Homo sapiens: one gene and its partner. The protein of the gene in region 1 purifies or fractionates together with the protein of each later gene. This does not show direct contact. Each region holds a gene or a part of one and is shown on either strand. Other genes may lie near its edges.

The links. Proteins that work in one complex are often made in the same cells at the same time.
Region 2: the proteins of NIPSNAP3A (region 1) and PRORP purify together in Homo sapiens (affinity purification with mass spectrometry; one large-scale study listed by BioGRID and IntAct). This does not show direct contact.

Annotation. Positions count from the first base shown.
Region 1 is NC_000009.12:104,746,544-104,750,509, forward strand, and holds the start of NIPSNAP3A (protein NipSnap homolog 3A), read left to right. Parts: upstream 1-1,139; 5' UTR 1,140-1,249; coding exon 1,250-1,309; intron 1,310-3,966.
Region 2 is NC_000014.9:35,178,024-35,181,556, forward strand, and holds part of PRORP (mitochondrial ribonuclease P catalytic subunit isoform 1 precursor), read left to right. Parts: intron 1-2,646; coding exon 2,647-2,754; intron 2,755-3,533.

The DNA.
Region 1 (3,966 bases):
TTGAATAAGTAAATGGATTGGCAATTACAGGGTTTAAAAAAAAAGGTCTAAGAAAATAATTTACTCATATAGATCCAGTCCTGATACAAATGATTTTTTTAGTCTTGCATGGTTACAAATAGATGTCTCTCTTCTAGAAAAACTGAGGCAACCCTTCCGAAATAACTAATTTTAAAAAGTCTCCCTTCCTTTGAACAGACAATTCCAAAGCTCTTCCACAAGGCACAACCAATACAACCCAGGTCATGGCCCTGCAATCCCTCCCTAGTCCTCATGATGTAAGCAATATTACATTAATGTTTACAATAATGTAATTATTAGCAAGAATAATGTAAACATTAATATAGATTACTGTAAATTAATAGTGTAATTAATTACTGTAAATTAACATAAGCATTATTAGATGCAGGAAGACAAGTGAATTTGGGGGCAGTGGCATCTATGAGACATAAATCCTCATCTGCCACAGAAGGAAGTCAACACATACTATCCATAACTGAAAATGCAATAAACAGCAGAAAACACTACTTACTTAAAAATACAGAAACAAGCATTAAATGAAACAGCTTGAAATGTTGAAGGTGGTTACTCTGGGAACCAACACTCCCGGACTGGGAGGACTAGACCAGGGTATGTTTAACTTTGACTTTTTCATTTCAGGCTCGATGCTGCCATTTCTCTGAGCTCGTGGAAAATTTAATCTAAATCTTAATTAGGAGCCTTCTAAGATGGAGAACACATTCATTGCAGAGAGGTCAGGCTCAAATACACGTCTATCACAACATCTAAAACTTAACTCGGAAAAAACCTCCACGATTTTAAATACAAAGCACTGCACATGCACGCACTCAACACCTCTCCTTCTTTCCCCATGGTCAACACACCCACAACCCCTGCACATTTACCAATCTACACAACTGAGCACTGGAGCGAATGAGGTGAGTGAGGGCCCAGAAAGTTGAAGCAGGAACGATCCGAGCCTTCAGTTAATCCTAACGTCACCTCTAACGTTTGGGGTAAGAACGTTTCAGGAAACCAAGGGGGAACCAACGCTCAGCACAGCAGAGAAAGACACCAAGCTACGGGACCCGCCGCGCCTCCCGCGCCGGGGTGGAGCTGACCCCGCCGAGCCCCGCCCCAGCCTGCGTCTGCCAATGATCCAGGAGCCGCTCCTTTCCACTCGGGAAACCTTCAGAGGAGTCTCAGAAAGGACACGGCTGGCTGCTTTTCTCAGCGCCGAAGCCGCGCCATGCTCGTCCTCAGAAGCGCCCTGACTCGGGCGCTGGCCTCACGGACGCTGGCGCCTCAGGTACCGGCCACGGGGGTACCCAAGCCTTCACCCGACGGGAGGGGAGGGGCGGGGCGGGGAGTGTTCCGGGTACGTGCGAGCAATGCGCATGCGCTCTCCGCCACGCGCGCCCAGACCTGGGGCCCCGGTGAGGTTCTAGCGTGAGCCCCGGAACCCCAAGACAGGGGTACCCGGAACGCGCGTGAGGAGGAGGCCGCTGCTAGGGGAATACCCCCAGCCGGGGTCGTCTCGCGGGCAGTGGTGGTCAGAAGGCTTTTCTAGCCTGGATGCCACACCCACCGGGACACTCCCATGGCGCCGGCTGTTTCGTTTTTGCTGCCCAGCTATGTCGCGGCTGCGGCCCAGCGAGCGCTCCCATGTTGTCACCTGGCGCTGTGGAGCCGCGGGTGGAGTCGTAGCTTTCCAAGCCACCGCCCTCTCTAGACATCAGGTTGAAGGAGGGAATTGTCAACCAGCCGCTTGCCACGGAACCGGCCTCCCCCTTTTAAATGAAGCACACAACTTCCGAGCATTTCGCGGAGACCCTTGAAGAGGAGGCCCAGGGTCCCGGTGGGGCTGGACCCTGCCCGCCACCCGCGCTTCGTGTGGTCGCTCCCCCAACCAGGCGGGACCGGAGCCTCCTATCAAACCGGACGATGACAGACAGACTCTTTTAACCTTAGATGAGAAATGGACAAAATGGAGCTTGTGATTCTGCCCTAACTTTCGGGAGTGGCCTATTCTGTGGCTTCAACCTAGAAATTTCTTTTCCTTTTGATGTTTAGGACTTTACTCCTTTCTGAAGGGGCAGGATGGGAAGGGGATTAACCTGTCCTAGAGACAGACTGAGGAGCACTAAAGAAGAGCAGCTCATGTCCATTCACCCCGGGTTAACAATGCAGTTTTTACCCTAATGATTCTCCAGTGGGGCAGGGCCAGGAATGACGTCCTTATGGCATGATTCCAAACTTTAAGTTTTTAGAAATGTCCATCAGTTGTTCTCTTTTAAGTGAAGTGGAGGTCGTTGCTGGTGGGAATGATCCCTAACTTGGAGATAAGGGAGGATGGACGACTCATGATTTCTGCCCTAGCAGCTAAAAGTCATCCCTGCAACAAAATTCTTAACTCCCATCCGGCTCCCCCACCATACCCGGCTCCCCTGCAGTCTTCCTTCTCTGGCACCACCTGTCCACATCTCTCTCCCTCTCTCACTGTAGGTTCCCTACTGTATATTAATACTGCCCAAAATTGTAAAAATGTGTACCTTTGATCAACTATTTTATCCTCCAAATACAAATTCCTCGAATCAACCTGAAATCCATTTGTCACAAATGCCCCATTGGCCTATCTCCTGATATATTTTATTATAATAATTTTGAAATTATGGATACTAGGCACTTGCTTCTTGACCAACATTGTTACTAGAGTTTGGTTTAAAAGCACAAAAAGAGTGTCCACAAAAGGCAGGGGCAGCTGCAGCTGTTTTTGTTGGTAGGCTTAGTCATTTGAGCAATAAGAATATAAGTCACACACGAATAGAATTAACTCTAGATAATTATCATTAAGCCTTATCATACACAGTTACATAATTTTGTATTTTGTAAACAAAAATATGTCGGAGCAAAAGCCTACTGCTTTCAGACAGACATACTGGCTAGTCAGTATAAGCCCTAATTTGTCCATAGCTTTGTAGGTATCAAAACTGTCTTCACAGATTATTCTGGTGTAATCAACTTAAGGAAATGGCACATGCTATTCAAACTTAAGTAAGATGGATTTATAAGAATATCACGAATGCCTGTGTGTATACCATGAGTGCATATATATATGTGTGTGTGCGTATGTGTGTGTGTATGTGTATACATATATACACATAGATACCTACATAGAGGATAATCTTAGGCGAGGTATTTCTTACAGAAAGTTCAACCAGAACACAAATTAGAAATTTACAGTGCGTGTATGACTATTACAAAAGGAATTAATGGTTCTTAAGTGATATTTTCATCAATGTGGTATAAGTGGATTCATTAAATGTTGTTCACATTGCATCTGTAATTAGAAACTAATAAGAAAATTTTGACTCTGAATTTTCTTTTCTCAGCATTCATGTTCTACCATTATATTACAATGCAATTGGATAGGTCAGAGCTTTTTATTGCATTAGTTACATTCCAGTCCTAATTTTGGTCAGTGGTTTACTTCATTGAATTAGGAAATACTTTGACCTGAACTGTAATTTCCATTTTTTTCAAGAACCTAAAAGAGTTTTCTTCTAGTAAACATTTTTTTCATTATGCCTGCCAAAAGTTACGTGCGTAGTTAATAAAGTTCTTTGATGTGCATAACTGTAACACGTATGCTCTTGACTAAAGATGCAATATTGGCTAATAGGAAAACTTTTGTAAATTTGTTAGAATCCTAATTGTAGTTCTTGGATAAAGAAGTATCATTAAGATCTCAGCGCCTTCTTATGAGCAATTTCTGAAAAAGTGGCTAAAGGTGACAGTGAACCCCCACTAGGAAACAGTAACTACACACTCAGCATATTTAAGAGTAGTTGTCTTTATTGACACCTCTATGTAAACAAATGTATATGTGAAGCAGGAGAATAGGGTCTTGAGGCAGGGAACCTAAGGACTTCCTAGAACTAAATCAAACCCTTCAGCTATGACAAG
Region 2 (3,533 bases), on another chromosome or scaffold:
GGTTGTTCAATTTCCATGTAGTTGAGCGGTTGAGTGAGTTTCTTAATCCTGAGTTCTAGTTTGATTGCACTGTGGTCTGAGAGACAGTTTGTTATAATTTCTGTTCTTTTACATTTGCTGAGGAGTGCTTTACTTCCAACTATGTGGTCAATTTTGGAATAAATGCGATGTGGTGCTGAGAAGAATGTAAATTCTGTTGATTTGGGGTGGAGAGTTCTGTAGATGTCTATTAGGTCCGCTTGATGCCGAGCTGAGTTCAATTCCTGGATATCCTTGTTAACTTCTGTCTCGTTGATCTGTGTAATGTTGACAGTGGAGTGTTAAAGTCTCCCATTATTATTGTGTGGGTGTCTAAGTCTCTTTGTAAGTCTCTGAGGACTTGCTTTATGAATCTGGGTGCTCCTGTATTGGGTGCATATATATTTAGGATAGTTAGCTCTTCTTGTTGAATTGATCCCTTTACCATTATGTAATGGCCTTCTTTGTCTCTTTTGATCTTTGTTGGTTTAATGTCTGTTTTATCAGAGACTAGGATTGCAACCTCTGCCTTTTTTTGTTTTCCATTTGCTTGGTAGATCTTCCTCCATCCTTTTATTTTGAGCCTATGTGTGTCTCTGCATGTGAGATGGGTCTCCTGAATACAGCAACACTGATGGATCTTGACTCTTTATCCAGTTTGCCAGACTGTGTCTTTTAATTGGAGCATTTAGCCCATTTACATTTAAGGTTAATATTATGTGTGAATTTGATCATGTCATTGTGATGTTAGCTGGTTATTTTGCTCATTAGTTGATGCAGTTTCTTCCTAGCATCGATGGTCTTTACGTTTTGGCATGTTTTTGCAGTGGCTGGTACCGGTTGTATCTTTCCACGTTTAGTGCTTCCTTCAGAAGCTCTTTTAGGTCAGGCCTGGTGGTGACAAAATCTCTCAGGATTTGCTTGTCTGTAAAGCATTTTATTTCTCCTCCACTTATGAAGCTTAGTTTGGCTGGATAGGAAATTCTGGGTTGAGAATTCTTTTCTTTAAGAATGTTGAATATTGGCCCCCACTCTCTTCTGGCTTGTAGAGTTTCTGCCTAGAGATCCGCTGTTAGTCTGATGGGCTTCCCTTTCTGGGGAACCTGACCTTTCTCTCTAGCTGCCCTTAACATTTTTTCCTTCATTTCAACTTTAGTGAATCTGACAATTATGTATCTTGGAGTTGCTCTTCTTGAGGAGTATCTTTGTGGCATTCTCTGTATTTCCTGAATTTGAATGGTGGCCTGCCTGCTAGGTTGGGGAAGTTCTCCTGGATAATATCCTGCAGTGTTTTCCAACTTGGTTCCATTCTCCCTGTCACTTTCAGGTACACCAATCAGACATAGATTTGGTCTTTTCATATAGTCCCATATTTCTTGGAGGCTTTGTTCATTTCTTTTTCCTCTTTTTTCTCTAAACTTCTCATCTTGCTTCATTTCATTCATTTCATCTTCCATCACTGATACCCTTTCTTCCAGTTGATCGAGTCGGTTACTGAAGCTTGTGCATTCGTCACGTAGTTCTCGTGCCATGGTTGTCAGCTCCATCAGGTCATTTAAGGACTTCTCTACACTGGTTATTCTAGTTAGCCATTCATCTAATCTTTTTTAAAGGTTTTTAGCTTCTTTGCAATGGGTTCGAACTTCCTTCTTCAGCTTAGAGAAGTTTGATCGTCTGAAGCCTTCTTCTCTCAACTCATCAAAGTCATCGCAAAGCTTTGTTCTGTTGCTGGCGAGGAGCTGCGTTCCTTTGGAGGGGGAGAGGTGCTCTGATTTTTAGAATTTTCAGCTTCTCTGCTCTGTTTTTTCCCCATCTTTATGGTTTTATCTACCTTTGGTCTTTGATGATGTTGACAGACAGATGGGGTTTTGGTGTGGAAGTCCTTTCTGTTTGTTAATTTTCCTTCTGACAGTCAGGACCCTCAGCTGCAGGTCTGCTGGAGTTTGCTGGAGGTCCACTCCAGACCCTGTTTGCCTGGGTATCAGCAGCGGAGGCTGCAGAACAGCGAATATTGCTGAACAGCAAATATTGCTGCCTGATCGTTCCTCTAGAAGCTTCGTCTCAGGGGTACCCGGCCGTGTGAGGTGTCAGTCTGCCCCTACTTGGGCTACTCGGGGGTCAGGGACCCACTTGAGGAGGCAGTCTGTCCATTCTCAGATCTCAAACTCCGTGCTGGGAGAACCACTGCTCTCTTCAAAGCTCAGTTGAAAGTGCAGAAATCACCCATCTTCCGCATCGCTCACGCTGGGAGCCGTGGACTGGAGCTGTTCCTATTCGGCCATCTTGGAACCGCCAGTTCATTCTTATCATAACTATCATGTGGGTTAATTTAGAAGTCTAGATAGGCCAGCTGCAGATCAAATGAAATTACATATGAAAGTGCTTTGTGCAGTATAAAGCACTATGAGATTATAGAGTGTATTGGATAATTGTATGCAGTTGCATCCATTAGACTGGCTTTTTCAGATTTCATTTGTAGAGTATCTGTGTGTGTGTGTGTGTGTGTGTGTATTTTTAAGGGATGAATATTTTGAATTATCAAAACAATAATAAAGGTCACTGCAGTGTGTTTATAATAAAGTCCTTACTGAGTTCTTATTAATGTTTTGTCTGACATTTCTTTATTAGGAACTTAAGAGATTTGAGAACTTCATAAAATCTCGTCCTCCTTTTGATGTTGTCATTGATGGTCTCAATGTTGCCAAAATGTTTCCTAAAGTTCGTGAATCTCAACTTGTAAGTATAAGTTTTACTTTGTTATTCCACATCTCTAGAAATATTTATTATACCCATTTATGACCTTCTTGGGGCTCTTAGCTCCTCAGTTTTTCTTCCTCTAAAACTAAGGTCTTCAGGGTGCCACAGTGACCAACTGCATGCTCCCCTAAGATTTACTATTTTCATCACTAATAAGTCGCTCTTCAAGGCTGGGAGAAAACAATTAAAAGTGAGGAATTAAAAGAAAGATTGCAATACAGGGCCAGATTTTCCCGTTTCGTGTAACCTTTAGCTAACCTTCTCCTGGGTCTCTGCTTTCTCTTTGGGGTCGCTCTGTCATTTCCCTTTGGGTCATATCCTTATATTTGAAAATTATCAATATACAATATCAAGAGATATTAATCACTCATTACTCACATTTGTTTTTTCCAAACATAGTATGTTCATAAATTAACCTAAGCAGTTTTTTTTTCTATATGGTAGCCATTTGTTAATTTATAAATGCCCTACTAGTTTCTAATAAGACTATCATTTTTCATAGCTGCAATTAACAGTTACTTTAATCTCTATTTTGTAGATTAAAAAATTGAGGCTAATTTTGTATAGTAAATCTATAGAAAACAGTCATAACATCAAAATTAGATTGTAGAGAGCTCCTGGGTTTCAGACTTGTGGCTCTTATCATTGGCAATCTATAGCCATTCATCTGTAATTAAACTATTTCTTAAAAATTGCTGCCGCTGGCTGGGCACAGTGGCTCATGCCTGTAATCCCCAGCACTTTGGGAGGCCAAGGTG